Homo sapiens: one gene and its partner. The protein of the gene in region 1 interacts with the protein of each later gene in a pairwise test. Each region holds a gene or a part of one and is shown in the gene's direction. Other genes may lie near its edges.

What was found.
Region 2: the proteins of FMO1 (region 1) and SLC71A2 interact in binary tests that used the Homo sapiens proteins (3 or more experiments, as listed by UniProt).

Annotation. Positions count from the first base shown.
Region 1 is NC_000001.11:171,272,271-171,276,092, forward strand, and holds part of FMO1 (flavin-containing monooxygenase 1), read left to right. Parts: intron 1-3,075; coding exon 3,076-3,238; intron 3,239-3,822. UniProt on the Homo sapiens protein: Broad spectrum monooxygenase that catalyzes the oxygenation of a wide variety of nitrogen- and sulfur-containing compounds including xenobiotics.
Region 2 is NC_000009.12:94,380,963-94,384,784, forward strand, and holds part of SLC71A2 (hippocampus abundant transcript-like protein 1), read left to right. Parts: intron 1-3,822.

The DNA of each region.
Region 1 (3,822 bases):
ATTTCACAGGATGTATGGAAATGCCTGGATGTGCAGGCAGAAGTTTGCTGCAGGGGCAGGGATCTCATGGAAAACCTCTGCTAGGGCAGTGCAGAAGGGAAATGTGGGGTCAGAGTCCCCACACAGAGTCTCTACTGGGGCTCTGCCTAGTGGAGCTGTGAGAAGAGGGCCACCATCCTTCAGACCCCAGAATGTTAGATCCACTGTCAGCTTGCATGTGCCTGGAAAAGCTGCAGACACTCAATGCCAGCCTGTGAAAGCAGCCAGGAGGGAAGCTGTACCCTGCAAAGCCACAGGAGCAGAGCTGCCCAAGACCATGGGAACCCACCTCTTGCAACAGTGTGACCTGGATGTGAGACATGGAGTCAAAGGAGTTCATTTTGGAGCTTTAAGATTTGACTGCCCTGCTGGATTTCGGACTTGCATGGGGCCTGTAGCCCCTTTGTTTTGACCAATTTCTCCCATTTGGAATGGCTGTATTTACCCAATGCCTGTACCCCCACTGTTTCTAGGAAGTAACTAACCAACTTTTGATTTTACAGGCTCATAGGTGGAAGGGACTTGCCATGTCTCAGTTGAGACTTTGGACTGTGGACTTTTGAGTTAATGCTGAAATGAGTTAAGACCTTGGGGGGGAACTGTTGGGAAGGCATAATTGCTTTTGAAATGTGAGGACATGAGATTTGGGATGGGCCAGGGGTAGAGTAATATGGTTTGTCTGTGTCCCCACTCAAATGTCATCTTGAATTCTCACATGTTGTGAGAGGGGTCCAGTGGGAGGTAACCGAATCATGAGGGTAGGTCTTTCCCATGCTGTTCTAGTGATAGTGAATAAGTCTCACAAGATCTGATGGTTTTATAAGGCAGAATTTCCCTGCACAAGCTCTCTTTTTGCCTGACATCATCCATGTAAGATATGACTTGCTCCTCTTTGCTCCTGCCATGATTGTGATGCTTCCCCAGCCACATGGAACTGTGAGTTCTCCATTAGACCTTTTTCCTTTGTAAATTGCCCAGTCTCTAGTCTGTCTTTATCAGCAGTGTGAAAATGGACTAATACATCCTCCTAAACAGATTTCCAAAGAGTATTTTATTCCACTTCCTTATTTTGCAATGGACACAGTAAAAATAAAGCATTATCATAATGAATATATACAACATATAAAAATCTTCTTTTTAATGCATCAAAATTTCTGAATTTGAAGCATTTCCTTTACCACATGCTGCCCAAGACCTTTTTTATTTTGTTGTTGTTGTTTGAAACAAAGTTTCTGTCACCCAGGCTGGAGTACAGTGGCAGGATCTTATCTCACTGCAGCCTCCACCTCCTAGGCTCAAGAAATCCTCCCACTTCAGCCTCCCCACTATTAATAGCTGGGACTATAGGCACATACTACCATGCCTGGCTATATTTTTTTTAATTTTTAGTAGAGATAAGGTCTCACTATGCCGCCCAGGGTGGTCTTGAACTCCTGAGCTCAAGCTATCCTCCTGCCTTGGCCTCCCAAAGGGTGGGGATTATAGGCATGAGCCACTGTTGCCAGGCACAAGGCCATTTTAGAACAATTTTTAAAAAGCTAGATGTTCACCAAAGTTTTAAAAAGTAAACACAAGGCCAGGTGCAGTGGCCCACACCTGTAATCCCAGCACTTTGGGGGGCCAAGGTGGGTGGATCAAGACCATCCTGGCTAACACGGCGAAACCCCATCTCTACTAAAAATACAAAAAATTAGCCAGCCATGGTGGCATGGGCCTGTAGTCTCAGCTACTCAGAAGGCTGAGGCAGGAGAATCTCTTGAACCAGGGAAGCGGAGATTGCGGTGAGCCGAGATTGCACCACTGCACTCCAGCCTGGGCAACAGAGCGAGACTCCATCTCAAAAAAAAAAAAAAAAAAGTAAACACAAATAGCTATTACTCAGCTGTGATCTGTAGTTGATTTTGTTTGGTTTTGCTTCTCATTCCTCTGTATATATTCCAAATTTTTAATGACAAGCTTTTTTTTTTTTGAGACAAGGTCTCACTCTGTTGCCCAGGCTGGAGTGCAATGACACTATCATGGCTCACTGAAGCCTTGACTTCCCAAGCACAGGTGATTCTCCCAAATCAGCCTCCTGAGTAGCTGGGACTACAGGCATGGGCCACCACACCTGGGTAATTTTTTGTATTTTTTTTGTAAAGATGGGATTTTGCCATGTTGCCCAGGCTACATATTTATTATTTTTATGATTAAAAATAAATCTATTTTGAAAGATTTTAAACTAACTGAAAATTTACTTTTAGAAAAGACAGTTGCACTACAAATGTAGAAACACAATAAGCACTTCAAATAGTATAAATCAAATAGCGAACCCATTAAGAGGGACTTAAGAAGCCTATATTCTTTAAAAACTTTAAAAAAGAAAGAAAGATAGCAAGCCACTTGGTGAGTGAATAATTTATCCTTTTAAATTTGACTTGTCTGAGATTTATTGTACATATATTTCCTGAACCAAAGCCTGGTAATCATGGACATGTATGTACTCACTAAGAGCAAAAAATAGATTCTTTGAAATGTGGACTACTCTCAAAAAAATTCAGGCCATAATGTTAGCACTTTTCAATTGCTTTCTAGTTCTGGAAAAACTTCAGCAACATATTCTATAAAACCTCATAAGCTAATATACACAGGACCAAATTCAGGTTTTCAATTATATCTTACCCATGTATCTGTCAAAGAAATTTTTGTTAAAGAGACAGCCCTGTGAGAAATGAGGTTGCATAACAGAAAGGATAATGAAAAAGGCATCAGAAACTTAGGTTCTAATTCTGATTCTGTCACTTTCTGTGAGAATTTGAGCAAATCACTTAAAATTTTTGGATGCCACCACTTGTCTTAGATATCTCTCCAAGCTTAGACTACCTCCATCTAGGGAATCATGATTAGTCCGGTAACCTGATTAGGTTTCTAGGGTTATACTTATTAATTATGTTTATTCTGTGTTCTAGAACTTTTAAAATATCAATGGTACATCAACTGGCAAGTGCTTAATGGAACATTGACAACTGCTAATCATATCTGTGATTCTTTTTTCAGACCAAAGTCTGCAGTGTAACAAAATGCTCAGATTCTGCTGTCTCTGGCCAATGGGAGGTGGTCACTATGCATGAAGAGAAGCAAGAGTCAGCCATCTTTGATGCTGTCATGGTCTGCACTGGCTTTCTTACTAATCCTTATTTGCCACTGGATTCCTTTCCAGGTACAGCATTTTCTGTAACTAACTTTAAGTTTTCTCGTGGGAGCCATTCTGATGCTTGATTGGTCTGGGAATGAATTCCTATGGCTGTTCCATTAAATAGTTAAAGTTGGGAGGTAGGAGGAGGCTTTTTTTGTTTTGTTTTGTTTTTTTCTAGCCAGCATTTTCTGGCCAGTTTTTGGCTTTCATTTGTTCCAAACAATCTGTGAATACATAAGAGCAAAATGGATAACTTTATAAGTATTTTTATGCTTTACCAAGATTCAATGTCCCTCAAGTGACTGGTAGCACTCAGAAAGTCTTCTGAGACATGGGATGCTTACACAAGTCATTAACTTCAGCAGCAGGTACACATTGCCAAAGTTGAGTTTAGAGGCCACAAAAGTCAATCTGTGAAAAAAGAAAAAAGTAATTTTTTCTATTTGTTCCTCTTATGTGAGTGATAGCAATTAGATTAGAGGTTTACGGCACTGGTCAATAGTCAAGAGGGAGATTAGTCTTGGGAGACAACTTAAGACATCTTTGGGTCTCAGTTTTCTTATCGGCCTTTTGCAACCATAGTCATGTTAATCTATGCCAAATTTTAA
Region 2 (3,822 bases), on another chromosome or scaffold:
ACCTCCCTCTACACCTCCATTTCCAGGCGATAATTTATCTACTCTGTCACTATATATTGGCTTGAATTTTCTTCCCCCTTTTTTTTTTTTTGAGATGGAGTTTCACTCTTGTTGCCCAGGCTGGAGTGCAATGGCGTGATAACGGCTCACCACAATCTCCGCCTCCTGGGTTCAAGTGATTCTCCTGCCTCAGCCTCCCAAGTAGTTGGGATTACAGGCATGCGCCACCATGCCAGGCTAATTTTGTATTTTTAGTAGAGACGGGGTTTCTCCATGTTGGTCAGGCTGGTCTCAAACTCCCGACCTCAGACCATCCGCCCGCCTCGGCCTCCCAAAGTGCTGGGATTACAGGCGTGAGCTACTGCCCCCAGCTGGTTTGAATTTTCTAGCTTTTTTTTTTTTTTGTTATTTTATAAATACAGCATATTCTCCTCTTTGGCTTTTAAAAAGTTCAGCATAAATTATTTTGAGATTTATCAGTGTTATGTAAATCGGTAGTTCATTCTTTTTAATTACTGAGTAGTAGTCCATTTGTGGATGAACCACGATTTGTACATTCCCTTGTTGATGGACTTTCGGCTTCTCACCAGTTTTTGGCTATTACAAATAAAGCTGCTGTGAACATCTGTGTGCCAATCTTTGTACAGAATACACTTTTTTAAAAGTAAATAGGAGTGAAATGGCTGGGTCATATGGTAGATGTATTTAACTTTTTAAGAAACTGTTGGCTGGGCATGGTGGCTCATGCGTGTAATCCCAGCACTTTGGGAGGCCGAGGCAGGAGGATTGCCTGAGCCCAGGGATTTGAGACCAGCCTGGGCAACATGGTAAGACTCCGTCTTTAAAAAAATAATAAAATAAAATAAATTGCCAAACTAATTATTTTAAAAGTAATTGTACAGTTGTACATTGCAGCTAGCACTGTATGATAATTCTAGTTCATCCATATCCTTACCAACACCTGGCCAATTTTAGCCCTTCCAATTGGTCTTTAGTGATGTCTCATTGTTCTTTTAATTTGTGCTTCCCTATGGCTAGTGGCATTCAGTATCTTTCCATAAGTTTTTTTTTTTTTCCTCCTCCGGCAGAGTCTCACTTTGGTTGCCCAGGCTGGAGTGCGGTGGCGTGATCTTGGCTCATTGCAGCCTTGACCTCCTGGGCGCAGGTAATTCTCCCACCTCAGCCTCTCGAGTAACTGGGACTACAGGCATATGCCACCATACCCAGCTAATTTTTTAATTTTTTATAGAGATGGGGTCTTACTATGTTGCCCAGACTGGTCTTGAACTCCTGGATTCAAGTCGTCCACCTGCCTCAGCCTCGCAAAGTGCTGGGATTACAGGTGTGAGCCATGTGCCCAACTTCCCTAAACTTATATGTCTTCTGTATATCCCTTTTGGCAAAGTGTCTGTTCTTGTCTTTTGCCTATTTTTTGTTGTTGTTGTTGGTTGGTTGTTTTCTTGTAATTGAGTTTTGAGAATTCGTTACATATTTGGGATGCAAGTCCCTCGTCAAATGATTTGCAAATACATTCTCTCTAGGCCGTGGTCCATCTTTTCATTCTCTCAGCAGTGTCTTGAAGAACAGGAATTTTAAATTTTGATGAAATTTATCAATTTGCTCTTTTATAGATCAGGGTTTTGGTTTCATATTTAAGAAATTGTTGCCTAATCCCAAATCATAGGAATTTCCTTCTATTTTTTCTTTTTTTTTTAGACGGAGTCTCTTTCTTTGTCGCCCAGGCTGGAGTGTAGTGGCACAATCTCTGCCCACTGCAATCTCCAGCTCACTGCAATCTCTGCCTCCCGGGTTCCAGCGATTCTCCTGCCTCAGCCTCCCGAGTAGCTGGGACTACAGGCATCCGCCACCACGCCTGGCTAATTTTTTGTATTTTTAGTAGAGTTGCAGTTTTAGTAGAGGCGGGGTTTCACCGCGCTAGCCAGGATGGTCTCAATCTCCTGACCTCGTGATCCACCTGCCTCGGCCTCCCAAAGTCTGGGATTACAGGCGTGAGTCATTGTGCTTGGCCTTCCTTCTATGTTTATGGAAGCTTTATAGTTTTAGATTTTACAATTGGGTTTGTGTTTAATTTTGATTACATTTTTATATGGTGCAAAATAAGGATGGAAATTATTTGTTTATGAACAGTTGTTCATTTGCTGAAAAATATGTTTTTATTCATTGAATAGCTTTTACATCTTTTTTTTTTTTTTTTTTTGAGATGGCGTCTTGTCCCATCGCCCATGCTAGAGTGCAGTGGCGCAATCTCGGCTCACTGCAACCTCCACTTCCCAGGTTCAAGCGATTCTCCTGCCTCAGCCTCCTGAGTAGCTGGGATTACAGGCGCACGCCACCACACCTGGCTAATTTTTGTATTTTTAATAGAGACAGGGTTTTACCATGTTGGCCAGGCTGGTCTCGAACTCCTGACCTCGTTATCCACCCATCTTGGCCTCCCAGAGTGCTGGGATTATGGGTGTGAGCCACCATGCCTGGTCTACTTTTGCATCTTTGTCAAAAATCAATTGTCCATATATTAGTCAGTCTCTGAACTCTTTATTCTGTTCCTTTGATCTATTTGTCTTTACATCAGTACCCTGCAGTCTTGATTACTGGAGGTTCATAAGACTTGAAAACTAACAGTCCCCCAATCTTGTTATTTTTTAAAGTCGTTTTAGTGATTCTGGGTCTTTGCATTTTAGAATTAGCCTGGCAATTTCCACAAGAAAGCCTTTTGGGATTGTTATTGGTATTCTTTTGCCGTGAAGATCTGTTTGGAAAGAATTGATCAAGTCTTCTGATGCATGAATGTAGTATCTCTCCATTTATTTTAGATCTGTAATTTCTTTCAGCTGAGTTTTGTAGTTTTCAGTTGACATGTCTTTCCCATCTTTTGTCAGATTATTCCGTTTCATATTTCTTGACGTTATTGTAAATGGTATCATTACATAAATGTAATTTTTTAAAATTTAAATTCACAATTGTTTGTTGCCAGCATATAGAAATACGGTTGATTTTTAAAAAATTGTTTAATTGTGGTAAAATACACATAGCAAAGAAGTTACCATCTTAACCATTCTTAAGTGTAGACTTCAGTAGTGTAAGTATATTCACATTGTTCTGCAGCCAATTTCCAGAACTACTTCTTCTTTCAAAACAAATTCTATACCCATGAAACAACAACTCCATTTTTTGCCATCCTCCCATTCCCTGACAACCACCATTCTCCTTTGTTTCTATGTGTTTGACTTACTTTAGATACCTCATATATATGGAATCATACCATATTCATCCTTATCTTTTTGTGATTGACTTATTTCATCTTGCATAATGTCCTCAAGGTTTGTCCATGTGTGCCGTGTGTCAAATTTTCCTTTTTTTTTTTTTTTTTGGACACATGGTCTCTCTCTCTGTTGCTCAGGCTGGAGTGCAGTGGCATGATCACGGCTCAGTGGAGCCTCGACCTCCCCAGGCTCAGGCGATCCTCCCACCTCAGCCTCCCAAGTAGCTGAGAGTACAGGCGCGCACGAGCAGGCCCAGCTAATTTTTGTATTTTTTGTAGAGTTGCAGTTTTGTCATGTTACCCAGGGTGGTCTCAAACTCCTGGGCTCAAGTGATACACCCGCCTTGGCCTCCCAAAGTGCGGGGATTACAGGCATGAGCCTCCATTCCTGGCCTCTTTGCCCATTTTTAAATTGGGTCATTTGCGTTTTGTTTTATTGTTGAGTTGTAAAATTCTTTATACATATATTCTGGATATTAACTCCCTGCTATGGTGCGAATGTCTCACTTTGAAACTTAATTGCCATTGTAATAGTATTA